Regions from separate parts of the Homo sapiens genome. Here regions 1, 2, 4, 5, 6 and 7 are each reported to be linked to region 3. Evidence: microRNA targets listed by miRTarBase, many of them from high-throughput screens and not tested one by one. Region 3 holds a microRNA gene; each other region holds the end of a gene's coding sequence.

Region 1 (4,066 bases), not on the chromosome of region 3:
TGGGTGGGTGGATGGATGGATGGATGGGTGGGTGGATGGATGGATGGGTGGGTGGATGGATGGGTGGGTGGGTGGATGGATGGATGGATGGGTGGATGAATAGGTGGGTGGATGGATTGATGGATGAGTGGGTAGGTGGATGGATGAATGGATGGAGGGATGAATGGGTGGGTGGATGGATGAATGGGTGGGTGGATGGATGGATGGATGGATGGATGGATGGACGGACGGACGGACGGACGGACAGATGTGGATGAATGGATGGATCAGTGGCTGGCTATGTCGATGGAGTACGCATATGTCCTACTTTCCGAAGCTGTGCCCCTTAGGGTGGCGTGGCCCACTAGACCTAGTTTCCGCCTGGCTCCAGCTCCCTTGCTGTGTAACCTGGGGAGGTCTCTGCCTCCAAGGGGGCTCCTGTGGGCTTGAGGCACAGGAGGCTAGGCAGCACCAGGTGCACCTGGCACAGGCTCATGCCCAACTCCAGGGGTTTCAAAAGCCAGGCAGGTCCTTGCACCCTTCTGTGTCTAGTCTCAGCATCCAGATGGACCAAGCCCCAAGTGTTGCTGGAAACCCCTGTGTCCAGAACCCCCAGGCAGCCAGGACACCAAAGTGGAGAGGGGCCAAAGCCTGCATGCCCCCTGACCCCAAGGCACTGCCTCTGCCTCAACCTCCCCCACTTCGCCCTGTGCCAGCCCTGGGTACCCTCCCTGCAGGCCGCGTCCCTCGCCACCTGGCCTCCTGTCTTCTGGAACTCAGGCCCTGCCCCCTGCTCCCAGCCTCCAATGCCCACGTCCAACAGGACTCTGCTTCTCAGCCCCACCTCACCCCACAGCCGTCACTCAGGCCGCATCAGTACCCAAACGCCCCGCCGCCGGCAGCCGTGGGGCCCCAGGGAGTGGCGGGCTGGCAGCGGCACTGAGGGCCTGGGGTTGGTGGCCCAGCTGGCTCAGGCCGCCTACAATGCGTGTGGCCCTGCCAAGGAGGCAGACAGCCCTGAGCCTTAGCACAAAGCATTTTAGGTTTATTTAAATAAAAATTATAATTTATACAATACTTTTTCTTTAAACAAACAAAGTTTTCTTAAAAAAATGTTACAGGAGAATTTTTTTCATCGGTTCTTAATACAGTACAATCCTTTTGTTGAACAAAAGTCACACTGGCAATGATTATTTACAGATCCAAAATAGACTCAGGCTTCAGACATAAAAAATTTAACATTCGTCTAGTTCAGTGATTAGTCACAGAAATTAAACATCTGCCCAGATGTACACAATTTGGTAAAAACTACAGCTTCTCTCCACGGGGAGCCCAGAGCCCGTGCCGATCCGCGCTCCGCTCCCGAGGACTTCCAGGGAGGGGCCTGTGCTGGCAGCAGAGCCAGTCGGTGGCCCTCCCCCGACCCCCCGCTCCCCGAATGTGGCCCTCCCTGGGGGCTTCGGCCACACCTGGCACGTGGTCAGTTTTCATCTCCCTTTCTCCACAAAAGGGACTCGAACTAAACCACCCGACGCTGGTAAAGCCCCATCTGCCCCAGGGACCCCTCCCGCTGTGTTTGGGGACTGAATCCCAGCACCTAGGAAGAGGCGCTCATTGGCCCCGAGGCCCCGGACCCATCCTTGGGCACTGCCGGGCCCTGGGGAGAGAGGTGTGGCCATTGTCTGCGGGCACTGCCTCTGCAGCCGCCCCTGGGGGTGGGTCAGTGCCCACCCTGTGTTGCCTCAGGCGCCAAGGTGGGGTTCACTGGGATATGTCCCCCTCCCCTGGTGCACCAAGAGAGCCAGTCCCCTACAGGAGCCAGACCCACGGCTCAGAGCGGGTTCTGTCCCCATTCGGGAAAGGCCGCCGTGTGGTCATCCTGACGCCAACGTCCGCGCAGTCCAGAGCCACGGGGGCTCCGCTCCACCGCCTGGGATAGGACATGTGCTTAATCTGGTGATCGGCGCAGCTCCCCCCAAAGCACCCCCGGCACCAGCGTGTGACTCTGCGGCCCCTCGTGAAGGGGGTGAAACCAGCCCATGCCGCCGGATCCCTCACCCACACCAGCAAATGAGGATCGGAGCAAAGATAAAAATTACATCTGAAAAAGGATACAAAAATAAGAAAACCAGCTTGCTCGCTGTAAAAAATAGAATCTTCTGTTTCTTCAAAAAACAACAATCTCAACGACACCCAAGGGACTCAGGACAAGCTGAGGGAGCTGCGGGATCCGCCCCAGCAGACACGCAGGCCCGCGGGGTGGCCACCTCCTTCCAGGAGGCCCAAGCCGCCTTTCCCTCCCTTCAGCCCAGCGCAGGCGGCCCCAGCAGACCAGGCCTGCGGGCGCTCCCTCCACAAATGCCACCTTGTTCCCGGGAAGCCCAGGCTTCCCTGGGGCAGGGCGGGGGCTGGGGGGGTCTGTGCCCGGACCGGCACCGGCTAGGCACGCGGGGGAGGGAACGCTGTCGCATGTCGGCTGCAGGCAGTGCAGGCCCAGGCCTCTGGGCTCGGCTCACGGTTGCTCCCTAAAGCACAGGGGCTGCCAGAGCCTCTCGGATGGCCCAAAGGCGGCTGCAGCCTGGGCCACCATGGTCCCGGAACACTCCTCCCCACTTCCTCCCCCAACCAACCCAGGCAACCGCAGCCTGGGGGCCATGTGCCAGACATGCCACAGTGCTCGGAGCACCTCCAACAGCCTTCGCGGATGTTCTCCTGGGCCTTCCAAAGAGCAAAGTGTGAGAAAGATGTGCTTTTACCTGCACCATCCTGTGCCCTTACTGGTCCCCAGCTACAGACCTCCTGGCCGGCGTGTCAGGCCGAGAGCAGCAGGCAGGCCCTTACAGACGCGGTGCTGAGCGCCCTGGAGGCCAGCAAGGAAGGTGCCACCAAAGACACTGAGGGCAGGCGAGGGGTGGGCCCTTCTCACCCTCTCTGTTCCCGTGGAGCGAGTGTGGAGCGCAGGCAGGGTCACTGCGCCCGGCCCCAGCCCGGCACCAAGGGCAAATGCCACAGGAGGGTCTCATGTAAGAGGAAGGAGGGCCGCCAGGCCCGTTTCTCGGTGGTTGGTGAAAGGCCCCCATGTCCCTCCTTGACGACATCTTTCTGTCCCCAGGAGGAAGGGCCCCGCACTCTTCAGCTATGGCTTTGGTGGTGGACGAGCTTCTGGCCTCTGGAGAGCGGGACACAAGGTTGCGAGAACCTCTTGGGGTGGCTGGAGAGGTTTCTCTGTCCAGGCTGGAACGGAGAAGGGCAGGGCCAGGGGTCCTGTGTGTCTTCTCCACGGGCCCCCGAGGGCCTCTGCCCCCTCCCCCAGTCTGCGGGTGGCCCTCAGAGGCACCTGACGTGCCCTGTGGGAGAGGGGCACCCCCGTCCCTGTGAGCCCTGGCCCCTTCTTGGTCGATAAAACGCAGAGGTCAACACAATAGAACCACAGGTCCAGGAGAATTATTGCAAAAGCTCATGAGGATGTCCAATTGTTTCCACTACCAAATCGTAAAAAAAAAAAAAGAAAAAGAAAAAGAAAAAGAAAATTCCAGCAACGTCCTGGGCAAGTCAATACTAGCTGTCCCCGCCAGACGCTGCCGCTGAGGTGATCTTGATGTACTGGCTGAGAATGGTCTCGAAGGCCTCATCCCTGTGCACCATGGCACCAAACACGAGCGGCTGGCAGGGAAGAAATGCCACCAGTGAGCATGGCACAGCCAGGCTGGCGCCAGGACCAGGACCGAGACGAAGTCCAACACCAGCCCCAGGCCAGCACGCTAGTCACGTGGGTCTGGGTGCAAAAGACAGGTGTCTCCCCACCACCCGGAGCCAGGCTCCAGCCTTCAGGGGAACAGAGCCAAGAGGCAGAGGGGAGCCAGGCTTTAGCCCCGTGCCTCCCTCCTCCCAAGTCACTGAGTCAGGGGACCCCTGTGCCCAACATCCCTGTCTGTCCGGTGACTCGATGGCCCCAGCAAGATTTCCAACCCAACCTGGACGCAGCCCCAGGCTCTAGCTGCTGCGAGGGAGGGGGCGGCTTTGTGACCCTGCTGCCCAAACTAAAACTCTGGCTGTCTGCCCCACGCTGGTCCCAGGGTTGCTCAGA
Region 2 (4,066 bases), not on the chromosome of region 3:
CTGTGGAGGAGGCTGAAGAAGAGGCACCCGAGGCCAGCACAGCCCCCAAAGAAGCGGGTCCTAGCAAAGAAGCCAGCCTGTGGCCCTGCGAGAAGTGTGGGAAGATGTTCACGGTGCATAAGCAGCTGGAGCGTCACCAGGAGCTTCTGTGCTCTGTGAAACCATTTATTTGTCACGTGTGCAACAAAGCTTTTCGCACTAATTTTCGACTCTGGAGTCACTTCCAATCGCACATGTCTCAGGCTTCAGAGGAATCGGCACATAAGGAATCTGAGGTGTGCCCTGTTCCCACAAACTCTCCCTCTCCACCACCTCTGCCACCGCCACCACCACTGCCCAAGATCCAGCCTCTGGAGCCTGACAGCCCCACAGGCCTGTCCGAAAACCCAACTCCAGCCACAGAAAAACTGTTTGTGCCCCAAGAATCAGACACCCTTTTTTACCATGCCCCACCCCTTTCAGCAATCACATTTAAAAGACAGTTTATGTGTAAACTTTGCCACAGGACATTCAAGACTGCATTTAGTCTTTGGAGTCACGAACAAACACACAATTGAAAGACCAACACTTTTTACCTATGGGAGGCAGTCCCCAGATTTCAACCTGAATTGTGAAATGTGTCATAAGAAACAAAATATTTTTTAAACAAGAATAATAAAGGTTGGAGATTGTTACGCTTGAAATTAAGTTGGAGGCAAATTGATAATTACTTAGTAATGTCCTTAACTTTAGAAATACAGCTTTTAAAATATTGTGGTTCTGGACCTTACAAGAACAAGATGGTTTGATTTCATTAATGTTGAAATTGGATTAGTCTTGATTGTGTGCATGGTTCCTCATTCCATGGTGTCAGTATAATCATTTAATTGAGGTTTTTGGTTTTTTATTGATTAGTGGAATACTGTCGAAGTATTCCTTCTTTTAATTATTTTAGACACTTGAGTTCTAGTTAAATCTTAACCATGTTCTTAAGTCCAAAATAGGAAGAAGTGGAGTAGTTTGCAGTATTGATTTATATCTTAGACTACTTTAGCAATAAAAGATAAATCTCAACTTTAATAAGTTATCCTGACACTTGATAAAAATAAATATTTGGTATTTTGTGGTCATGTAAAACTTCTTTTTGTATGAAAATTGTGAGAAATTTAAATCAGCAATAGTAACACTTAGATTTTTATAAACTAACAAAAACTTGCTCTCAGTCAATATAATAAATGATAGTTAAACTCTAAGGAAGACCTGGGAAATGAAAACAATTTATGGAAGTCCCCTACAGTCAGTTTATAAGGGCTTCAGTAGTGATAGACATTGTTATAAAAACTTGTACCATGTTACATGTACACTGCACCACAGTCTAAATTCAGACCAGCATTTGAAGGACTGCACATATTTCATTTCCTCTGATTTATGCTGTCACAAATTGAAAATCTGAGTGTAGTTAGGACAAAAAACAAAGCTAACCATATGGCACTAATTTTGATTTTAACATTAGTGTAACAAATAAGGTCGGGACATATATTTACATAGATCCCAGACACTCAAGAATTAGCACAGCTGATGTAAAATTCTAAATTACCATTTACTTCCAGATAGAGCAGAGGAGAAACACCTCACTGCAGTTTCAACATGCTTTCCAAGAACAATATATACGACATATACATTTTCCTGCCTCTCTCTTGTGACAATTTCTGTTAGAATTTGTTGGGGGTCTGATGGTTAAAATCATGGGCAAGGCCATTCTCTACATCATTGCTTAATATTTCAAAAATAGGTATTAGAGCACTATCAGTGGTCCAAAATTAGTTTTAGCTACTTATTTTGCTCCATGGGTTTTGGGCTTTTCAAAGAATACTATGTATAATTTGTAATTGAAAGCCTTTCAGTAGGATATCCAAAGTTCAATGTGTTTCAAAAGGGAAAACTTTTACTTGTGGGGGTGGGAGTTAGATGTATTAAAAAAACGAAACTACAAAATCCTTTTAAGAAAGTAATACCAATTTAGACTCTAGTTTGTGTTACGAGGTATTCTTTCAAATTTTTTTTAAAAGCCAACTACTGTCATTAAGAAATAATTTTAGATTTGTGCTCTAGCAGAAAATAACTCTGTACCCATCAATCTTATTGCCAACATTCCATACCAGTGGTAGGAAAGATATTCTCATTTTTTTTATTGAACCAGACATTTTTATAAAATACTGATTGACTTTGTACATTATGGATATTATATATGAAATTTTGCCTTGTATTCTTTCACTTGAAAAAACTCCAAAATTCCACAATATTTTAGTAGTTAACTTCCTATTCTTTCTTAAATTTGATGGAGAAGGGAAAATAAATTGCAGTTATTGATTCTTGCCATCTTTGTTTTCTTAAAGAAATCTATGCATTTTAAGGATAAAACTAAAGCATATGGGTTTACATGAAACATCAGGATGGATTATTGTACATTGAATTCATTCCGCGTATAATGTGGTATTTCTTACTCTGTCCATCTTGGTAGCTGTCACTTCAAAAGAAGACAGTTTCCCTGAGTAATCATCACCTACATGGCCATTAGAGTATCTATCGGTGATAATTCCATGATACAGAGTATCTTGGCATTATAAATTCAGTATCCCAGGACCTAAACCTTTATGCTACATTTTCGAAGATTTTTTAAAAATAATATTGTTAATCAGTAAAAAAAAAAAATATTTTTGATCTAAACATAGGTTCTGCATATCTGTTAGATTTTAAAAATGACTGGTGTTTTGTCTTCACATTTTTGTCTAAGCAAGGAATATAAGATTTCAAATAAAATTTTGAACCAAAAACATTTATAATGCCGTTCTGGTTTTTCTATTACTTTTTATACTGTACTTTAAAAGCATTAGGCTGAAAGAGTTTATTTTGGTGGTCAAAAAAAATATGCTTCCACTCATGTAACTATTTTAAATGTTAAGAAGTAAAATAATGAAAGATATGTTAATTACTTTATTCAGTAAAGTTTTTTAAGAATGTTTATCTCAGCCAGTAGGCAAATACTTGGTGTAAAACAAGTTGGTCTTAAATTGTTGCAACTCATTAGCTAGTGAAGATATTCATGTAAATATATTTTAGGATTGTAATTAATTTTGAAAATGTAGAAAGCTCTTTATTCCATGTAAGTATGCAGGATGCCTGCTTTTTTATGCAGTTGTGGAAAGAATGTAAAATGTTTTAATATATTCTTTGTTAATCTGAGAACTTGATACTGAATCGTTTATGTGGGAGAAGGAAGGAGTAACATAAAACATGTTTTTATCACTCAAAGTAAGCAATGGAGGTAACAAATATTGTGCATTTTAACAGTAATATTTGAAGATTTGTAGAATATTCACCTTTAAAACTAGTTAGTATGCATTTATAATTTTACCAGAATATACAACTAACAATTCAACAGTGATGTTCTTTGCATTTGTGGGGAGATGTGTGATGTTCTTGGTTTTCTGGTTTGGAATGGAACGTTTATAGCCTTGCCTGTAAAAATGTGCCCCAGCACTTAATGAGTGACCGTTTGAATCCATATGTAGTCCCATTGGTGCTAATGAGAGTAGCTGCTGTGAAACAGGAATAAAATGTGTCTGTTCACGGAGGTGCGGTGTGGATGCACCTACAAGGCCAACTCTCTGATCAGGGTGAGGGAGAGATGGAAGAATTAACAGATCTAAAGTTGGCCTTTGTTGTCTCAAATTGGGTTTGTACACACATGCATGCATGTGTGTATACAACTGTAATCTGGAACTTCAGGAAGTAAAATTATTTGAAGTTTCTTAGTAAAAAGTAATTAGGTATAATTCCAAATAGATTTCTGTATAAATTGTATCTAACTGGATTACAAGTCAGTTTGACAATTTACGATGTCTCAGTGATGTTTCTGCAATAATTGTGAAATGCATTATTGATTTAAATAATGCTGACACGTACTCTTTAAAAGTGTTCTTTAACACTGACTACTAAACTTTAAGTTTTAAAAAATAGGTTTTCATTTATGGCTTTTTGTGGTTTTAGCACTTTAAGAAGTTTAATTTTTTGTAATTTTTAATAT
Region 3 (4,066 bases):
AGGCTTAGTGTCTCAGTGGGACATTCCCAAATGCCGTGACAGTGTCACCTCCCAGAGACAGGCAGCAGGTGGGCAGCTATGGTTTCACCTGGCCCTGTCATCCCAAGGCCCTCAACAGAGCACATATTTAATGTTCAGTAAAGTCTGTGGCCCAGCGACCCTGGGCTCCCTCTTGACAAGTCCTGTACAAAGCAACATGGAAACTCTTCACTACCTACAGGGCAGCCACTGAGAAAGCTCTGGTTTCTCCAGAACTCTCTCTAGCTTCTTGCATTTTTAGGTTACGAGCTCTATGGGGGCAAAGGGTGGAGCCCCGAGAGGGTGAGCCAGTCCACGGGGGCTGCCGTTCACGCCACGCTGCCTCCTGGTGAACAGGCCCAGGGCCTCCTCCAATGCTGCCCCTTCCTGGAGGTCTCAGAGAAAGAGCAGATTCCCCTGGTGCCCCTGGCACACTTCACCAGGAGAGGGAAGAGGAGGGAGAGGAGGAGGGAACTAGGCAGACCCCTGGGGCCCCCTTACCATGGCGATGAATCTGCCTATAAAGCGAAAGTAGGTGAGGTGGTCCGGGTTGATGGAGGAGGCGGGGTTGATCTGCAGGCAGTAATTGTTCTTTCCGGCATATTCAAATAAACAATACATAGGGTTGAGCACCTCATGAGACAGGAGGAAAAACCACTCTCTGTGAGGGAAGAGACAGAAAAGACAAGAATAATGGGTCCCTTCGTGCACATCTGCACAGGAGCTGTGTCTCTTCACCATCGTGTCTCAGGTTAGTATGGGGACACGTGTCCCAGGGAGTCGAGCCCTGTGACAAGCACCCGGGCTAACCTATATGAACAGCTGGTCAGTGAACAGGGCAGGCTCAGACCTACAGTGAACCAGGGCGGCAACTGCATTTGAGGATGATATTTGGGAAAACGTGTGATTGTCGGCTCCCAGGTGATGTGTTCCAAGACTTTACATCACAATATCCAGAGCTTCTAATGGTAAAGGGGGTCCTTGTACCCTGGGTCACCATGCTCAGTTGCCTAGGCTGTGCACTGCACAAGGGCACGATGCATGTTTATTACAATAATTTTTCTGCAAAGGTTCTGTTTGAATAGTAACTACCCTGTTTCCACTCTACCTGGGCGGGCAACATAACGTAAATACACAGCAACACATTTCCAACCCCGATCCATGACAATGTAATCCATGCTGCCTTCAGATGAGAAACCTCATGCCCACCAGCTATGCAACACTCTTGCACTTTGCCCTCCCTTCACCCCCAGACCCCAACACCATCCCCGTTCCCACACTTCCACGCATTCATCTGAACCAACACCCGTGCCCTGGGTGCGAGCCTCAGGCATGAATTCAGAGTCCTTTTGGGCTTGAGCTAAACCAGCAAGGGGATGTCCCAAGGGGGCCAGTCCCCAGCTGCTGGGCTGTTTGTGGCTGGGCAGACGAGGAGTCCGTCGACGCAGAGGGTGCCCCGGTATCCTGTCCGTGGTTCTACCCTGTGGTAGAACAGCATGACGTAACCTACCATAGGGTAAAACCACTGGCAGGACACAGAGAGAGACACACACAGGGCGCGGCCACACCAGAAGCCCACCAAGCAGAGCCTGGAGAGGAGGTCACCACGGAAAAAAGGAACATCCATCCACGGGGCCAGCGCAGAAGGCAACGCCACCACCGAACAGAGGACCAGAAGCAAGTTAACCCAACACCAAGCGGGAAGACATGCCCACACCGGGAGAGGTCTCGAGCGGAGAGGTCGCTGCGGGCCACAGCGCTCTCTCTCTCTGCCGGGGCCCTTCTGCCCTGCTGTCCAAGGCAGCATTTCCCAGAGGGCCTGTTAACTTTTATGGGTGGACCAGGGTGAAGGCAAGACAATGCTTTGGACTCTTTTTAGGGTGACATAAGCCGTTACAGTTTTACTGACCCCAGGCATGTGACATGCAGTTGAGCCCTGCTCAAGGCCCTGTGGATCGTGACACAGCTTATCCACACGGGGACACCTGACTTCACCTGCCCTGGCTGCCTTAAGAGGAGGGGATCCCAGGGTCAACTCTAATGGATGACCACATGGCCCCTATATTCAACTGCCCAGATGCTGCTGGCCTGGTTGTTAAAGTACAGAAACATGACACATTGGTAGATAACAGAGCCATTGTACTGAGCTCTCGCCCCTCCCAGGAGTCCTCCGTCGCCTCATGACCCAGTAACTAAAGGCTTAATGTCCAGCCCAGTGGGGCACCCCAGGCCCCTGTTCCAGGCCCAATGGACTGGCCACATGGATTCACGTATTTTGTTTTTTTGTTTGTTTTGTTTTTGAGATGGAGTTTCGCTCTTGTTGCCCAGGATGGAGTGCAATGGCACGATCTCGGCTCACTGCAACCTCCTGCCTCCCAGGTTCAAGCGATTCTCCCGCCTCAGCCTCCCCAGGAGCTGGGATTACAGGCATGCACCACCACGCCCAGCTAATTGTGTATTTTTAATAGAGACGGGGTTTCTCCATGTTGGTCAGGCTGGTCTCGAACCCCCGACCTCAGGTGATCCACCTGCCTCAGCCTCCCAAAGTGCTGGGATTATAGGCGTGAGCCACCGCGCCTGGCGGGTTCACGTATTTTGAATGCCACACTGTGCCCATTCCTGAAGATGCATGAGAGCTTTGGGAGGGAATGTGAGCAGGGGGCAGGCAGCTTTCTGGCCATTGATGCTGTAGCCTGGGGAAGCGGGGTACAGGGCAGCCTTCCGGGGCACTCAAGCTCACCTGGCGATGCCCCCATAGTCCAGGCCCTCCTCGCCACGCATGATGATGTAGAGCCGGCGGCGCAGGTCATAGGGTTTCATGTTCATGATCTGGGAAGACAGAGCATCGGGCCAGCCTGCCACTCTCCCTTCCACAGCAGGCAGGGGCGGGAGGGACAGGGGACTCTAAGGCCCAATATCCAGCAGACACAGTCACCAAGACTCACGCCCTGGAAAGTCTGCAGTGTGGGTTTAACAGGCCACGCGATAGGAGATGGGGTGCTGGGAGGAGGGCGTCGGCCTGCCACTGGTTTCGGGCACCATGATCTAACCTGTTGGAAGGAATCTTCGAAAAGCGTCTGCCTGGAAACGCTGATCTTCACGTGGCTAGGTAGGGCATTTGACTGAAAAAAAAAAAAGAAAAGAACTTTAAATCGAGCCTCAAGTGGTCATCTGTTCTCCTGTCTGTATGAACAGGCATTCCCCAGCCTGCTGGGCCAGGAGGCAATAGCATGTGCCCTAGGAATGAAAACTAGCTTCCTAGAGACAGCCAGCTCCGGGTTAGACAAGTGTCTTGCGCCCGCCTAAGACACAAACATTCCGATACCTGCTGCTGTGCCGGGAACTCACACTGAAATAACTCAATAACCCCAACTGCCACGGGAGCCCCAGTACCAGAACTCACATGGCAGAGGAAACGGAACTGGTGATACTTCCACCGAAAACTGCGGTCATAAGCACCAGGGGAACCTTGCTTCGTCCTAGGAAGAGCAAAGATGTTCAGGGGTTCATGCGATTTCTCAGAAAATGAACAATTTGTCTTTGTCAGCCCTAAGGAAAGCTGGTGCTATGTTAATTTAAAGATTAGTAATGTAAGGTGAGGAAGTGACTGTCATTAAGATCCTTGAAGAATAAAAAAGAAAATCTAGAAATAAAGCCAGACTTCTTGCTTTTAGAGAAATAACTCTAGTGTCATTCGGAATAAACAGGATAGTCCCTTCCTCCCCATCCCATCTTATTTATTTGTTTGTTCGTTTTCTAGAGACGGGGTCTTGCTCTGTCACCCAGGCTGCAGTGCAGTGGTGTGATCATGGCTCACTGCGGCCTCGAATTCCTGGTCTTAAGCGATCCTCCCGCTTTAGCTTTCCAAGTAGCTAGGACTACAGGAGTGTGCTACCACACCGAGCTAATTTTAAATGTATTATTATTTTTTAGAAACAGGGACTCACTCTGTCACCTGAGCTGGAGTGCAGTGGTGCCATCATAGCTCACTGCAGCCTCAAACTCCTGAGCTCAAGGGATCCTCCCACCTCAGCCTCCTATGTAGCTG
Region 4 (4,061 bases), not on the chromosome of region 3:
TTCTTCCTCCTCATCTTCCTCTTCCTCTCCCCCTTTGCCTTTACCGAGTTGTTCCCGCCAGGTGGATTTTGATGTAGGTAGTGCATCTATTTACAAGAGTGATGGCCAGATACCTGCCAATGAAATCTTTGTCACTAATGTCAGATCACTTGGTGTTCAGGAAAAGGCCAAATTAAATGATGAGAAAGCAAATGATGACACCAACAGAGATGGTGGCCCCCTCAGCCACGAACCTGTGGGAAATGACCTTGCTTTTGAGTGCAAAGGCCAATTTTATGATTATTTTGAGACCGGATATAATGAAAGAAACAATGTAAATGAATCTTGGAAAAAGTCCTTACGGAAAAAGGAGGCTTCACCACCAAGTAACAAACTGTGCTGCAGCAAAGGAAGTAAAATATGAGCCATCTTCTCACCGAACTTTGAAGCATGCACAGCATGATCAGTTAGCTCTCGTAAATTTTATTTTGAATGGATTTTGTAGTTTTGTACAACAGATAAAATTATGCCATGAACATGCCATGTCGTTTTAATGCCTGGAGAGCAGATTGCGTAAAACATCTGTATAGCAGGCATCAGCGAGCTTCTTATAAATGTGGTGATTTTTACCAAGGAAACGATTGACTTAATGCTTAAAAGTATATCATAGTTTTCTTACGGAAAAGATCAGTAGATGAGATTGGGGGACAATGTGCCCTTGCAATATTTCCATTGCCCCCCAAGGAGCCTGTCACTAGCTAAGAAATTTCTACATGTTTGCCAGTTAATTAGGGAGTTATTTGGTAAGCAAATCAATATAACCAGCAAAGATACCTGCTTCTTCTATATGATACAATATTTTTTTTAAATAAAAGACTAAAGACAGGGAGCTAGATGAAATGGCTTAATGGTGCTGTTAAGTATTTGTACCTAACAGTCTTGTGTGACAGATGAAAATAGGATGTAACATAATGAAACACACCTGTCTAGGGGCGGCAATCAACAGTCTTACACAGAGAGGGTATTCCCTGCAAGTTTCTGGCTTGCCTGTGATGGGTGATGAGGCTTTTAGAGAGGTGTTATACAGGGCGATTTTTGGTGCCTTACTTTTATCTTAATTTTTGCCAATGTGAAAATTAAGGATAAATCAGAGTTACAGCAGGGATTTAACAAACAGGACAAAAAAAAAAAAAAAAAAAAAACCACAGGGTGGATCAATATGGTTTGGAAACTGTTAACTTTGAACTATTGTGTTCAGCTTTTGATTCGACATCTCTATTCTTTATTTTTGATGCCCAATTGCTTTTGGATTCGCCGTTTTTTCAATAGGGATGGAGGAAATGAGAGAGAGAGCTGTTAGAAAGCAGCACGGGCTGCTCGAGCTTTTCTATGGCAACTGTGTGTTGCTGGGGTTGGGGTTTTCTGGGTTTTGGGTTGTTTTGTTTTGTTTTCTTGTCCAATGAAGTTCACGAACCAGTGGCATGCATTATACTTTTCTCTGTTTTGCATCATTTCACTTGTTTAGATTATAAAAGCATGTGGGTTTTTATATATGAACTTTGCTGTTGATTAAGAAGCACAATGTTAATAAATGATGTGGTGATCAATAAGGTTTATCTTAAAGAATGTAAAGACTTTAGGTTTTTGAAAGTTATTTTGGAGAAATGGGACTTAATCTATAATAGTTACTATGTATTTGGTCTACATTTTCCAAATAATATCTTTAACTTGTACATTTGAAAAGTGTTCAGAGTGGCCCTCCTACCATCCTTCCTTCCACTCCAGCCAACTCTTCCTGCTAAACTGTATTCCAGTTTCCAAGTTTACTAATTGACTTGGGCCTGTTCAAATAATACTTCACAGAAACCAAATGCCAAACGGAGGAAATAAGTAAGCCCTCCCAGTTTCTCCAAGATAAAGCTTTTTTTATTATTGCTATTAATATTAAATATAGGTCTCATTCATACAGTGTATGAGTAGGATCATTTGGACAATTGTCCACAAAGACCAATTTTTAAAACATTTTCTTGTGTTATAGTTAAATAGTCTAGTAATGTTTTGTCCTTTATTTTCAATATTTGATAAACATTTGATGTTCAAAACTTAGCTAATAGATGCTTGTATATGAATGTGTTGTAATAAAGTGAGGTTTTCTTGATATATATTTATTAAGATGATAAAAATTCATTAAGTTTTTTAAATTTTAATGGCTATTGGCTATGTTTCTCTTTTCCATTATTCTCTCTCCTTTAAAAAACTCAAAACATCTAGAAACTGTAGTGGATAGTGGCCACACAGGAGTTTTCTAAATTAAAGAGTATTTTAAAATGCCAATCTGACAGGTGTTTCAGAATGATCCTAGTTCGTAAGTTTAAGTTTCTATTGATTAAGAAGCACAATGTTAATAGATGATGTGGTGATCAATAAGGTTATGTCTGAAAGAATGTAAAGATTTTCCTTTCTGGAGTGTCTCTGAAAAAAATTGTATAACACGAAGCCATAAATACTGAATCTTAGCTGATTGCATTATGAACTGTCAAACTGTGAAGATGACCCATATGTAAACAGTTATAACAGCTACAGATTATTGCTAGTAGCATTCCATACAATTCCATATTAATGTTCTTAGGAGCTAATATTTGATAAAGGGGAAAGCTAGTTAAAAACTAATTAATTTGTCAAATGTAGCATTCTTATTATGAGTGTAATATCTCATGGAGATTTAAATATGAACGAAAGGACTTATCCTTCTGCTTTTTAAAAGCCCCAGCATTACTAGATAGTGTTTTTCTTGAAGGCCAAAGCTGTAAAATGACAAAGTTGGTGATTTTCAGCAGCACTCACCTGAGCTGTGAGCGCCTGCACCTGTTCGGTAGAACCCACTAGAATCACTTCTCTGTAGGATAAGTGATGCCTTTGAATCCAGCAGCATAAAAATCTGTTCTTTTTAGTCATCAAGTTTTTGTTTCCAGGATATTTCTAGCATTGCAAAAAAAAATTTCTTCACCAAACACTAATTCCTAAACACCCATCCAAACCACAAAAATTCTCTTGTTAGTAGGCGAGAGTGCTAGGACTTCCTGTGTTCACCTCCCATGCACCCAGCATTGTCTTTTATGCATGAGATATTCCATTAGATTTTCCTAGAGTGGCCAGGACACCCTTCATAGTAAGTTATATCTCTTAACTGGATTCTATAGTTTTATCTCGAGCAACTTGGAAAAGCTAAGACATCCTCCACCCACACTGGTATCTACGCGCCTGGAAGCTGCACCTTCTCTCATTGCTGTGCTCTGCTTTAAGGAAAACCTGATATGACAGAATCAAGACTATTAAAAGATAAATGAGGGGAAATCTTCATTTAAGAAAGTTGCCTTGCTCCCCAAGAGTGCCTTTAATTGCTATTCCCCTAGGCATCTGGGTGCATATCATTAATGAAATCATTAACCTTTGTCTCTGGTCCTTCCTTTCTAAAAACAGCAGATTATAGAAGGTGGTCTGGCAAAGGGATTTTCAAAGGGCAAAAGTCTCATCATCATCTTTCCACTCAAAATCCTATTATTCTACATTTCACTTTGCAGGGGTCCTAGGGACAGGATTGCAGGGACAGGGGACATGGGAGGAAGACAGAAAAATTCAAAACCAGCAGATGCCACTACCTGGCAATGAATTGAAAATTAGGGGAAAGCATCTTTGGCGTGACCTTTTATTAAGACAACAGAAATTTAGAACATTTTACATGCTTCTTTGTTAAATGGTGAAGCAAGGGAATGAAAGTATTTATTTTTAGAGCTCATAGTTAACTCCATCAAGACATGGCTACCCACCCCTCCAGTTATGAACTTGTATTACAGCTCCACTTGGTGACTTCCTTTCTGTGTATCAGGAGCAGAGCAGAGGACAACTTGTAGAAGACATGACCATTAAGAGACATCAACTTCGCAACAAATATAAGACAAGGATACAAGGATTCCTATGTGATGCAGCTAGGTTTTTATATCCTTCTAACAAATGGTGAGCAGGAGACTTTTTTGGAAATAATTAGTTGTGAAATTCCATTTTTCTGACAGCCCCTTAAATTT
Region 5 (4,066 bases), not on the chromosome of region 3:
GTGACGGCCTGGCCAACCAGATCAACAACCCCGAGGTGGAGGTGGACATCACCAAGCCGGACATGACCATCCGGCAGCAGATCATGCAGCTGAAGATCATGACCAACCGGCTGCGCAGCGCCTACAACGGCAACGACGTGGACTTCCAGGACGCCAGTGAGGGCAGGGCCTGGCCGGGCGGCCAAGGGGCCAGGGTTGGTGGGGGTGCCACAGGGGTGTGACTGCCCTCCGGGTTCCCCCACCCGAGGGGCCCTCTGCTCCGGCATCACCACAGTGAGTCTGAGGACGCTGTGCTGCCCAGGCACGATCACCGAGCCCTGCACCTCTGCGGCGCCCTGGAGGCCTGGCCGGGATGTCTGTTGGCTTTGGCTCCAGGGACCAAGGGAGGCAGCCCCAGGGAGTGAGAGTCTCCCAGCCTCAGGGGTCAGCGGGGATCAGGTGCTGCTGGTCCTGGGATTCCACACCGAAAGGATGTTGGGGTCACCTGGCACGGGCCCTTACAGGGTGGTGCTGCACTGGGGTCTCCTGTGGGGACCTGCCTGCCGGAGCCTCCTCTCCTTCCCAGGTGACGACGGCAGCGGCTCGGGCAGCGGTGATGGCTGTCTGGATGACCTCTGCAGCCGGAAGGTCAGCAGGAAGAGCTCCAGCTCCCGGACGCCCTTGACCCATGCCCTCCCAGGCCTGTCAGAGCAGGAAGGACAGAAGACCTCGGCTGCCAGCTGCCCCCAGCCCCCGACCTTCCTCCTGCCCCTCCTCCTCTTCCTGGCCCTTACAGTAGCCAGGCCCCGGTGGCGGTAACTGCCCCAAGGCCCCAGGGACAGAGGCCAAGGACTGACTTTGCCAAAAATACAACACAGACGATATTTAATTCACCTCAGCCTGGAGAGGCCTGGGGTGGGACAGGGAGGGCCGGCGGCTCTGAGCAGGGGCAGGCGCAGAGGTCCCAGCCCCAGGCCTGGCCTCGCCTGCCTTTCTGCCTTTTAATTTTGTATGAGGTCCTCAGGTCAGCTGGGAGCCAGTGTGCCCAAAAGCCATGTATTTCAGGGACCTCAGGGGCACCTCCGGCTGCCTAGCCCTCCCCCCAGCTCCCTGCACCGCCGCAGAAGCAGCCCCTCGAGGCCTACAGAGGAGGCCTCAAAGCAACCCGCTGGAGCCCACAGCGAGCCTGTGCCTTCCTCCCCGCCTCCTCCCACTGGGACTCCCAGCAGAGCCCACCAGCCAGCCCTGGCCCACCCCCCAGCCTCCAGAGAAGCCCCGCACGGGCTGTCTGGGTGTCCGCCATCCAGGGTCTGGCAGAGCCTCTGAGATGATGCATGATGCCCTCCCCTCAGCGCAGGCTGCAGAGCCCGGCCCCACCTCCCTGCGCCCTTGAGGGGCCCCAGCGTCTGCAGGGTGACGCCTGAGACAGCACCACTGCTGAGGAGTCTGAGGACTGTCCTCCCACAGACCTGCAGTGAGGGGCCCTCCATGCGCAGATGAGGGGCCACTGACCCACCTGCGCTTCTGCTGGAGGAGGGGAAGCTGGGCCCAAAGGCCCAGGGAGGCAGCGTGGGCTCTGCCAATGTGGGCTGCCCCTCGCACACAGGGCTCACAGGGCAGGCCTTGCTGGGGTCCAGGGCTGTTGGAGGACCCCGAGGGCTGAGGAGCAGCCAGGACCCGCCTGCTCCCATCCTCACCCAGATCAGGAACCAGGGCCTCCCTGTTCACGGTGACACAGGTCAGGGCTCAGAGTGACCCTCAGCTGTCACCTGCTCACAGGGATGCTGGTGGCTGGTGAGACCCCGCACTGCAGACGGGAATGCCTAGGTCCCTTCCCGACCCAGCCAGCTGCAGGGCACGGGGACCTGGATAGTTAAGGGCTTTTCCAAACATGCATCCATTTACTGACACTTCCTGTCCTTGTTCATGGAGAGCTGTTCGCTCCTCCCAGATGGCTTCGGAGGGCCGCAGGGCCCACCTTGGACCCTGGTGACCTCCTGTCACTCACTGAGGCCATCAGGGCCCTGCCCCAGGCCTGGACGGGCCCTCCTTCCCTCCTGTGCCCCAGCTGCCAGGCGGCCCTGGGGAGGGGTGGTGTGGTGTTGGGAAGGGGTCCTGCAGGGGGAGGAGGACTTGGAGGGTCTGGGGGCAGCTGTCCTGAACCGACTGACCCTGAGGAGGCCGCTTAGTGCTGCTTTGCTTTTCATCACCGTCCCGCACAGTGGACGGAGGTCCCCGGTTGCTGGTCAGGTCCCCATGGCTTGTTCTCTGGAACCTGACTTTAGATGTTTTGGGATCAGGAGCCCCCAACACAGGCAAGTCCACCCCATAATAACCCTGCCAGTGCCAGGGTGGGCTGGGGACTCTGGCACAGTGATGCCGGGCGCCAGGACAGCAGCACTCCCGCTGCACACAGACGGCCTAGGGGTGGCGCTCAGACCCCACCCTACGCTCATCTCTGGAAGGGGCAGCCCTGAGTGGTCACTGGTCAGGGCAGTGGCCAAGCCTGCTGTGTCCTTCCTCCACAAGGTCCCCCCACCGCTCAGTGTCAGCGGGTGACGTGTGTTCTTTTGAGTCCTTGTATGAATAAAAGGCTGGAAACCTACAGCAGGGCGAGGCCTCGGGGGGAGAGAGAATGTGTGCGTATGTGTGTGTGTGTCTGTCTGTCTGGGGCTTGGGCATGGACCACACTTCCGTGTTTGGGGTGAACGTGCAGCCCCTGCCAGCTGCGCCCTTCAGCCTGTCTGCAGCTCCACCTTGCCCTGGACAGACTCCGGTCTGTCCGCCCCTCTCCTTGGTGCAGGGGAGAAGGAAAAGGCCAGGGCACGGAGACCCAGATGGCCTCCAGCAGGCCCCACCTCCCATCTACCTCTTCCTGCCTCCTGCCCCTGCTCTGGGCACACACAGCACAGAGATCCTCTACCCCTGGAAGGTTCTGGTTCCTGCCAGGTGGCCTCAGAGATGCCCAAGGGGCTAGAGAGAAGGAACCAGCATTGTCCCAAGGATGCCCTGGTGGTCCAGTTTGTCCCCAGCCACCTTTCTCTCGAGGCGGAGGGTCCTGTATAACCCTAGGGGCTCCCTATAGCCCCGCTCCTGTTCCTGTGGGGTCATGGCCAGAGGCTAAGTGGCACGGCGGCACTGGCAGAAGCGCCCACTGTTCTGGGTGTGTCCCTCAACTGCTTTATTGAGAATTGCAGCCAGTACAGGTTGGTCTGGTGAACATTTTTAACATTGCGTTTCCATCATCTGGGACCCAGGAATAGAGGGCCCCCTAGCAACTGGGACCTCCAGGCCCCTTGTGAGCGTGAGAGCACAGAGGGGTGGGTGGGCACCCCAGGAGGGAGATGCAGCTCCACCCAGCCCTGCTGAACTCCACTGCTTAGTAGGTCCCAGCTCCGGGCAGGACGAAGGGCTGCACACAGGCCTCCCACAAAGCATCTGCAGCCGCCAGGTCCCTGGTAGCCACGGTCCTCACTTGCAGGCCCCTCCGCAAGTCCCAGAGGCCCGGCTCCTCCCCTGGGAAATGAGGGTGGGGTGGAGTCCTCTCCGTGGCGGGCCAGGGGATGCAGCCTGGGGGCTCAGCGGGGCCCCTAGGGGACAGGTGAGCAGCCAGACACTCATCAGCGGCTGTAGTTGTGGACAACGCATTTGGTCCAGCCGGCAGGATCTCAGGCTTCCAGGCACCACCTTGCCCAGCTGCTTCAAGACTTCCACAAGCCCTTTTTGAACCTGGGCAAATGCATCTTTCATGTCAGGGAAAGGAGGACACAGGTGCGTGTGCACTCTGTGCAGAGCCGACACCACGCCAGGAGTGGGTGGGCAGGGGCACCCGGCTGGTCTCAGCCCTGCCTTCCCGGCCACACCTCAGACCACCAGGGAGCTCCCAAGTTCTGCCCACCCTAGTGCTGCCCCAAGAGGCTGCTCAGGGAGAGACCCCTTCCAGCCAGGGCTGGCTCTCAGTCCCTCTCGGTTCCTCACAGGAATTCCAGAAGCCACAGACAAACTGACCCACCCACACTGATGGGCAGAGAGCAGCCCCTCAGTCAGCCTCCCTTGAGCAGCTCAGCCCAGCCGTGGTGGGTGGCCC
Region 6 (4,060 bases), not on the chromosome of region 3:
GCACTGTGATGGAATTGTGAGGCTCTCTCTTCTTCACTGTTAGCTCCCAGGCCACCAACCTGAATGCTCCCTACTATCCTACATTTCTTGTCCTCCTCTAGGTGACAGCTCCTCAGTGGGGAAAGTGAGTGTGCTGGGCTTGCTACATGAAGAGCTTCATGGACCAGGCCCTGTGGGAGCTCTCAGCAGCCTTGCTCAGACTGAGGTGACCCTGGGCGGTACCATGGGCCAGGCCTCGGCCCACATCCTGTGTCGGAGGCCCCGACAGCGCCCAACTGACCAGGTCAGAAGAACCAACAGAGAAGGACTGGAAACGGGGGACAGAGAAAGGGGTGGCACGATGGGAAGAACAATGAAAATGCTGATGTTTCAAGGAGACTTTAAAAACAAACTTTTTTAGAGATGGGGTTTCACTGTGTTGGTCAGGGTGGTCTCAAACTTCTGGGCTCAAGTGATCCTTCCACCTCAGCCTCCCAAAGTGCTAGGATTACAGACGTGAGCCACTGTGCCCAGCCCTCAGTGAGACCTTTTTTTAAAAAAAGCTGATTTAGGTATTTCTCTGTTTTCTATCACTCACTTCATTTAATCCTCTCAGCTATGGTTAAGGTAGATTGTTTTATTATCACCATTTTTCAGGCTGGAAAGCCAGTCCAGGGAGGGTTTTATTCCCTTGGAGTTTTTTTTTTTTTTTTTATTGGACAAGGTCTCACTGTTGCCCAGGCTGGAGTGCTGTGGTGCAATCATAACTTACGGCAGCTTTGACCTCCCATGTTCAAGTGATCCTCCTGCCTCAGCCTCTGGTGTAGCTGGAGGTGGGAGCACAGGCATGTAGCACCACATCCAGCCAGCTTTTTAGTTTTTTATACAGATGAGATCTCACCCTGTTGCCCAGGCTGGTCTTGAATAACTAGGCTCAAGCCATCCTCTGGCCTTGGTCTCCCAAAGTGCTGGGATTACAGGTGTGATCCACTGCACCCGGCCCAAGGAGGTTTAAATTTAAGTCACTTACCAAGGTTATAAAGTGTAAGTGGGGCCCAGGCGAGGTGGCTCAGGCCCATAATCCCAGCACTTTGGGGGGCCGAGGTGGGCAGATTGTGAGGTCAGGAGTTCGAGACCGGCCTGGCTAACATGGTGAAATCTCATCTCTACTAAAAATACAAAAATTAGCTGGGCATAGTGGTGGGTGCCTGTAGTCCCAGCTATTCGGGAGGCTGAGGTGGGAGAATCACTTGAACCTGGGAGGCGGAGGTTGAGGTGAGCCGAGATCATGCCACTACACTCCAGCCTGGGCAACAGAGTGAGACTCCGTCTCAAAAAAGGAGTAAGTGGGCTGCTCTGCCTAAGGAGTCGCCATCCTTTTATTCCTTTACTTCCTTAATCAACTTGCTTTCACTTTTGAAAATAAAATAGAGGCTGGGCGCAGTGGCTTACACCTGTAATCCCAGCATTTTGGGAGGCCGAAGTGGGCAGATCACCTGAGGTTAGTGGTTTGAGACCAGCCTGGCCAATATAGCAAAACCCCATCTCTACTAAAAAGACAAAAATTAGCTGGGTGTGGTAGCACGTGCCTGTAATCCCAGCTACTCGGGAGGCTGAGGCAGGAGAATCACTTGAACCTGGGAGGCGGAGGTTGCAGTGAGCTAAGATCACGCCACTGTACTCCAGCCTGGGCAACAAAGCCAGACCCTGTCTCAAAAAAAAAAAAAAAAGTTGAGGGCAGGAGCTGAAAGCAGTCAGTTAAATAGGTGATTGGGGGCTGAGGATGTGAGGTCCTGGAGTCTGTCTAGTTTCTTCAGTAAGATGAAAAAAACTCTTTTCTTTTTTCTCTCCAGACTCAGTGGTTCTCCATCCTTCCGGACTTCAGCCTGGATCTCCAAGAGGGGCCCTCTGTAGAGTCCCAGCCCTACTCCGATCCTCATATACCCCCGGTATCTAAGAATGCCAAGGCCAGAACAAGGAAATGTAGTTTAGTATCTGGTCACGGGAGAGAAAATAAAAGCTGCAGAGGTTGGGGGTGGGGTCAGGGATTCTAGGGATGGGGCAGAGTGGCAGCATCCTTTGTACCTACAGGTGGATCCCACAACTCATTTGACCTTTAACCTTCACCTGTCCAAGAAAGAGAGAGAAGCCAGAGATAGCCTGATCCTGCCCTTCCAGTTCAGTTCTGAAAAGTAAGGTTGGGACCTGGGTACGTGGATCCCTGAGTAGATCCCAGCATCTGGGCCATGGAGAGGTTGGGGCAACAGGTTATTGATTAACCTGACTTTATAGGGACTGAAGTCCACCTCCAGAGACAAGTCCAAGTTCTTGATCCACCCATTCCCCCTATAATGGCAGAGGACCTTTATGTCTCTTTTCTCTCCCTTATACCCTTGGGTCACAGCTCCAGTTGTCCCCAGAGCACCCTGGGCCTGGGCTGAGCCAGACCAGACCCTTGGGAGGTGGCCCTATCCCTAGGCAGTGGTGCTAGGAGGACAGAAGGCTATATGGGCGTGGCAGAGGCTGGTTAACAAGGGCTTAGTACACGCTTGCTGTTCTGTGCCCAGTATGTGGGCGGATGACGCAAGACTACAAGATCCTTGCCCTCAAGCTGCTAGGAACTTACGGTTTTATTAGGAGAGCAGTACAAGGGTATCTATCCCAGTACCAAATGGTGCTTCAGCTCTAACATGGAGGTCAGAGAAAGGGACTTGGACCAATAAAATGACATGGAGGCCTAACAGGTTGCCTGAATGAGAGTCACAGTCACCTGGAAGAAAGTATCCAGACCCAACCTGTTAGCTACCCTCACCAGCACCAAATCTTCCCTTCTCAGACAGCAGGCTCTCCTGCGGCCTAGGCCAGGGCAGGCTACCAGCCACATCTTCTATGAGCCAGATGCTTATGATGACCTGGACCAAGAAGACCCAGATGACGACCTGGATATTTGACTGGCCAGATTTGATTAGATTGTAATTGGAGGGGGCGCGGGAAGACTTTGGGCCCAGAACCATCTTTCTATTGTTTGTGTTAGCCTTACCCTGTCCCTGCCCCACCTTGGTTCCCCTTGTCTATGGAGCCCCGCCTTGTGAGCCAGGAAGCAGCGTCTCATCAGGACAGAAGGTAGGATGAAGACATGGGGTAATGTGAGAGAGTAGAACACCCCCGTACCTAATAAAAATCTTTATTTTTTTATTAAAAAAGAAGTACTTTGGTAGCTATTTAAATAAGAGGGGGGTGGGAATGAATGTCGAGATACGAGCACCTGCATCTTTTAGTCAATTGTCAGTGGAGTCAGTGGGGTGCTAAGTGTTCTGAACTGAAGTAGGTGCACTAAGGTTCCAAGCTCCCTGCAAGGATCTGGACGGGAGGAAAGCAGAGGCCCTGAAGGGAAAAAAGCCTGCTTCCCAATACTTATTTTTTATTACTGTACAAAAAGCACACTCTCCCTCTTTTTGTCTCTCCCACCAACGGCACCCCCCCACCCCCAACCCAAGAGGACTATACATGGAGTGCAGGGACAGAGTGACCAGGAGGCCTTTGTCCGGCACCCTGCCCACAGGCTGAGCTCAGCCCCAGGCCCTTTCAGGCATCTAGACACTCCCATAGCCTGTCAGGCTGGGGCAAGGAGATCCCAGGTCACACATACTCCTTGGAAGAGTTGGACTTAGGGTAAGAGCGGGGTACACGGTACCCAGCCTTGCTCTCATTCCCAGGACAGGAACAGGAGAGCAGTGCACCTCCCAGGATGACTAGGGCAGACCCTGCCCAGCCAATAAAGATGGCAGGGCCAAACTCATACCTGTGAAGAGAAGGGGGTGGTTAGAAACCCTGGCGTGCCTCTGCCCTCCTCCCTATTCCAGGACCCCAGACCTGTCCCCTTAGGAGGCAGGGTTCCCAGACTTACTTAATGTTGGTAGGGATCAAAGGGTTATAAAAGTCTGTGACAATCTGATGGCCATACCAGGAGCAAGCTACCAAGGCGGCAAGACCTGGAGACAGAATGAGGGTTTCAGTATAGTGAGGCCCCAAATGGGCGCCTTGCCCAGCCTTGCTCCTCCCAGATGGGAGAACCCGGGGG
Region 7 (4,065 bases), not on the chromosome of region 3:
CAGTAGCTATCATTGAGTTGCTTGTATAGGTTACTCTTCAGTAATATACTGTAATCTATTTTCTCTATAGAGTGACCATTTGCGGAATGGGCCTGACAACTAGAATTGCAAGAATATTAGAAATCATGTTTCATTCTATTTCTATGAACAAACTAAACTTACAAGTGTTGCTTCTTAAAAAAACAGAGCTTGATGATAAAAACAAACAAACAAACAAAAAAACAAACAAACAAAAAACCATTGAGACAAGCCTGGCCGACATGGTGAAACTACATCTCTACTAAAAATACAAAAAATTAGCTAGGCGTGGTGGTGCATGCCTGTAGTCCCAGCTACATGGGAGGCTGAGGCAGGAGAATCACTTGAACCTGGGAGGCGGAGGTTGCAGTAAGCCGAGATTGTGTCACTGAACTCCAGCCTGGGTGACAGTGAGACTTGGTCTCAAAAAAAAAAAACAAAAACAAAAAACTAACCAGCAATGTTTATTTCCTTATGAAGCTTATATTTCACCTGTACAAAGGGCATTTAATATTCTTTAATCTTTTATAATCAAGCATTTTTCAATAAGTATTTTGGAGTTAATGTGACATAGCAGGGATTGTTTTAAACACTGAAATTTAGAGCTCATTTTTGTAATTTGGTTTGCTTTCTAGTATTTCCCCAGAATTACTGTATCATCCATAAGTTCAAAAAAAATACCATTTGAGAGAGCAAAAAGAGACCACAGAAGTTTAATGCATTTTAAAAAATTAGAGATATTTTGTACTTTTTTATTGTTGAAAAAATGATTAGAAAACCCATCTCTGAAGCTACTTTTTAAGTTTTTTCATATCTTTGTGTCTCTTTCTCTCTCTGTTATTTAAATATATCAATATATAATAATTAAAAAATATTAATCCAATTTATATTTTATATATAAAGAGAGAGATAAAACATACAGGAAAGCCTAGGTTAGATATACTAAAGTATACAAGTACGTGCCAATATAAACATATATAATATATTAATCCAGCTGCAGTGTGAATGTATGTATACACATACTAATTCGGTTAGTCTTCTTCGTTTCATTTTCTTGCTTTTCCTAAGAACAGGTATTTTATATGAAACGACACTTTTAATACTAGAGAAACAGAGAGACTTGTTTAACCAGATCACTCATTTGTTTAAATATACACTATGTGCTAGGCATTGTACCAGGAACTGAGATAAAGATGATAAACATTGTCCCTGCTCTCATAGAACTTACAGTGAAGCTAGAATAGATAGACTCTAAACACATGACCACATGTCTATATGCTCTATAAACTCTAAAGTCACCTTCATGAGAAAATGTTATGAATAAAAAGTACAGAGTGCTATGACAGTATATAAAAGGGATCTTAATCTGGGAGGAGTAAGAGTTATAAAGATTGTATCAAGAAAATGATATGTAAGCTATCCCCAAAGGAAGGAAAGATGGGAGGTAGCTAAGTGAAAATGAGGGGTGGGTGGATTACACATGCTAAAGCCCTGTTGGATTACCTGTAGACAAGAAGGAGAAAAGAAGGTGAACAAATTACAATTTAATCAAAATCTACCATGAGCCAGATTATTGATTTTAGTATAACATCTGACTACCTGAGGGTCAGGATAACTTATTAATTCATTAAGTCATTCCATGCCACACATTTGGAATGCAGAGTTGGATGAAATATGGTCGATGTTCTAGGAGAGCTCTTAATACAGTTAGATGAAGAAACCTATAAACAAATAAAAGCAATGGAATATATTTGTTGTAGTGCAGATGTCTAGAAGATGCTATGAGAACACCAAGATGCAAACCACAAGCTTTGCTGAGTGTGCCAAGGAAAATTCACGAAGGAGATATTGCTTGAACTGAGTTCTGAAGGATGAATAAGCCTCCTCTTATACGCAGGAAAACGTAAATGCTTTCCAGGTAGAGACCCTAGCAAATACAAAGTCATGAGCCTGGGGAAAGAACATGCCTAGTTAGGGAACTGAACGCCTGACTATAGTGAATGTGAGGCACAAGGGAAGTTGAAGTACTGATGATCAGGAGTGAGATGAGACAGAACCTCATTCATCATGTTTAGCAACTTTTATTTCATGTCTAGGAAACAGGGAGCCATTTAAGAATTTAGATAGGAAAATCTTATCCTATTTGTGTTTTCTAAAGACCCCAGAGGCTATTGGTGCTGTGAAGGAGTAACTGGAAGGGGGCTGAACATGGAGAAAAGTTGAACCAATGCAATGGTATTGGGGAATGAGGGCCCTCTCTGCCAGCCAGAGAAGAGCAGAGGTAATATTTTGAATAATGTAGAATTAAAGATAAATAGTAACTGTATAAGAAGGAGAAACAACATCAGTGGTTTAGAAATCTTTTATTGTTTCTCCAAATGACAATACAAGTACCAAAAACCAACATGACACACAGGAAAAAATAAAAGTGCAATTTTAATATAGTGAATGTGATACATGTATAATTCCTCATAACAAAATGGTCAAAACCTTTAAAAGATCCACAATAGATATCTGAAAATCTTAGCAATGCTATATATATTTTGAGGACTAAATGATGAATTTATATTCAAATTGTTCAAATATATTTTCAAAACTTTCAGAGCACAGATCATTGTTAATTTTGCTTTTATTTAAAAAACCAAGAGAATACATTTCTATGTAAATTAGCAATCAGGAATTTATCTGTTTTTGGGCTTCTTCATCTATCTAAAGTGTATATTTAGTGACCAGAATTATAGTCATCCTATAGTGAAAAAATAGCATACAAAATCAAAGTTTAATGAGTAAATCATGACATTATGCCATACTAAGAAGACATCAAACGTCTAAAACCATAGGAAGAGAATATATTAGCCCTTACAGAACTTAAATTTTTAGAAATTCTGAATAAGGAAATATATTCTGCACAGATAACGGTATGACACACCCAGTGTTCTAATACAGTACAACTTAAATAGCATCCTAGGGTAAAGAGTAACATATTCCCCAAGAAACAGAACTAAAATATTTCCTATTTTATGAGAAGAGTGAGTAAGAACAACAGGATACCTCCCTCAACAGCACACTAATAAAACATTATTTCCATACGAAATCCACAGCCTTTTCGGTAAGACTTTAAGGAATGTATGATAGAAATACAATAGTTATCTTCAATTCAATATTCATTGAAAGACTAATAACCAGTGATTCTTTGCTCACAATATGGTCAATTGCCAAAGGGTTCAATAACTTATCAGGTAAAATAACAGTAAATAGTGGAAATACTATATTAGTACTTCATTAGCTGAGCTGTAAACTTCAGGGAGAAGCGTAGGCTTTCCCCCACACTCTTCAAAGTAGGGAATCCATGTAGAAAATGGAAAAAAACCAACCCTTCCTTCTTATTCTTACTGGGTCCAGGGATCTCCAGAAAACTGCTCCGCTGAAGACTGGGCAATTTTATGATGCATGGTCTTTTTTGTTACTCAGTTTTTCTTGTTTCCACTGTTGAGAAAAGAGTTATATTAGTATAACCAATTCCCACACTCTTGTATGCTACATTTGGTTTTCAAAAGCGTTTGGTGGGGGAAAAAAATCAATAAAAGCAAAGAGCAGACAAAAAATAGATGTCAGTAATGAGCTCTGTGTAATTGTTCAGGCATGTAAGATTGGTGATAAAGGTTTACCCAGAACATTCCAGAAAAAAAGTTTCCTTATTCTTCTTAACAACCTTATAATTCTAAGCATAGTCTAAATCCTACAGAGAGAATAAGGACATTGTGAAGTATATGCTTTCCATAGAAGATATTAAAACACCACAAAGATCAAAGGGACAAATACCTGTCCAAAATTTTCTGGATGACTTTCTTTAGAAAAGGGGCTTCCGGGTCCAGACAAACTTGCTTCCCGTTCTTCAGGGAGGCTCTGAAGTAAAGAAAAAGAGGATGCACCCATGAGCCACAAAGGTTGACGACCCAGGCTGGAGGACTTGCCTAAGTCACAGTGGACACAGCAACACAGGAGAACTTACACCACTTCCACCTTGGAGCACTGCGGGCCTGCGGG

The links. Region 3 holds the annotated microRNA hsa-miR-140-3p (UACCACAGGGUAGAACCACGG, at 1,487-1,507, opposite strand). A microRNA usually pairs through its seed, bases 2 to 8, with sites in the 3' UTR of a target mRNA and lowers its output. Matches are read on the target gene's strand: a 7mer-m8 pairs with bases 2 to 8, a 7mer-A1 pairs with bases 2 to 7 and ends in A, and an 8mer does both.
Region 1: miRTarBase lists GRAMD4 as a target of hsa-miR-140-3p. Seed matches in the 3' UTR shown: 7mer-m8 at 3,406-3,412.
Region 2: the mRNA of ZBTB21 is a reported target of hsa-miR-140-3p. Seed matches in the 3' UTR shown: 7mer-A1 at 2,469-2,475.
Region 4: miRTarBase lists SERTAD4 as a target of hsa-miR-140-3p. The part of its 3' UTR that is shown has no 7-base or 8-base seed match.
Region 5: miRTarBase lists GPC1 as a target of hsa-miR-140-3p. The part of its 3' UTR that is shown has no 7-base or 8-base seed match.
Region 6: the mRNA of CLDN7 is a reported target of hsa-miR-140-3p. The part of its 3' UTR that is shown has no 7-base or 8-base seed match.
Region 7: the mRNA of CXCL6 is a reported target of hsa-miR-140-3p. The part of its 3' UTR that is shown has no 7-base or 8-base seed match.

Annotation. Positions count from the first base shown.
Region 1 is chr22:46,676,723-46,680,788 of GRCh38, reverse strand. GRAMD4 (GRAM domain containing 4) reads right to left here. Exons shown (of 19, transcript NM_015124.5): 19 at 1,004-3,642. The coding sequence ends at 3,538. Among named protein-coding and RNA genes, the nearest start is that of GRAMD4, 58 kb to the right of the region's middle.
Region 2 is chr21:41,987,386-41,991,451 of GRCh38, reverse strand. It overlaps ZBTB21 (zinc finger and BTB domain containing 21), which reads left to right. Exons shown (of 3, transcript NM_001098402.2): 3 at 1-4,066. The coding sequence ends at 557. Among named protein-coding and RNA genes, the nearest start is that of ZNF295-AS1, 20 kb to the left of the region's middle.
Region 3 is chr16:69,930,583-69,934,648 of GRCh38, reverse strand. It overlaps MIR140 (microRNA 140), which reads right to left and starts at 1,568; the gene lies at 1,469-1,568. WWP2 (WW domain containing E3 ubiquitin protein ligase 2) reads right to left here. Exons shown (of 24, transcript NM_001270454.2): 14 at 3,422-3,497; 15 at 3,069-3,140; 16 at 2,759-2,847; 17 at 520-679. RefSeq lists a silencer at 797-987.
Region 4 is chr1:210,241,935-210,245,995 of GRCh38, forward strand. SERTAD4 (SERTA domain containing 4) reads left to right here. Exons shown (of 4, transcript NM_019605.5): 4 at 1-4,061. The coding sequence ends at 403. Among named protein-coding and RNA genes, the nearest start is that of SERTAD4-AS1, 10 kb to the left of the region's middle.
Region 5 is chr2:240,465,493-240,469,558 of GRCh38, forward strand. It overlaps GPC1 (glypican 1), which reads left to right. Exons shown (of 9, transcript NM_002081.3): 8 at 1-156; 9 at 566-2,584. The coding sequence ends at 798. It also overlaps a transcript of ANKMY1 not described here. Among named protein-coding and RNA genes, the nearest start is that of GPC1-AS1, 11 kb to the left of the region's middle.
Region 6 is chr17:7,256,756-7,260,815 of GRCh38, forward strand. CLDN7 (claudin 7) reads right to left here. Exons shown (of 4, transcript NM_001307.6): 3 at 3,887-3,971; 4 at 3,148-3,781. The coding sequence ends at 3,619. It overlaps ELP5 (elongator acetyltransferase complex subunit 5), which reads left to right. Exons shown (of 8, transcript NM_203414.3): 5 at 102-283; 6 at 1,833-1,928; 7 at 2,071-2,171; 8 at 2,816-3,182. The coding sequence ends at 2,930. Among named protein-coding and RNA genes, the nearest start is that of CLDN7, 3.7 kb to the right of the region's middle.
Region 7 is chr4:73,837,062-73,841,126 of GRCh38, reverse strand. It overlaps CXCL6 (C-X-C motif chemokine ligand 6), which reads right to left. Exons shown (of 4, transcript NM_002993.4): 2 at 4,031-4,065; 3 at 3,841-3,924; 4 at 2,367-3,504. The coding sequence ends at 3,486. Among named protein-coding and RNA genes, the nearest start is that of CXCL6, 2.4 kb to the right of the region's middle.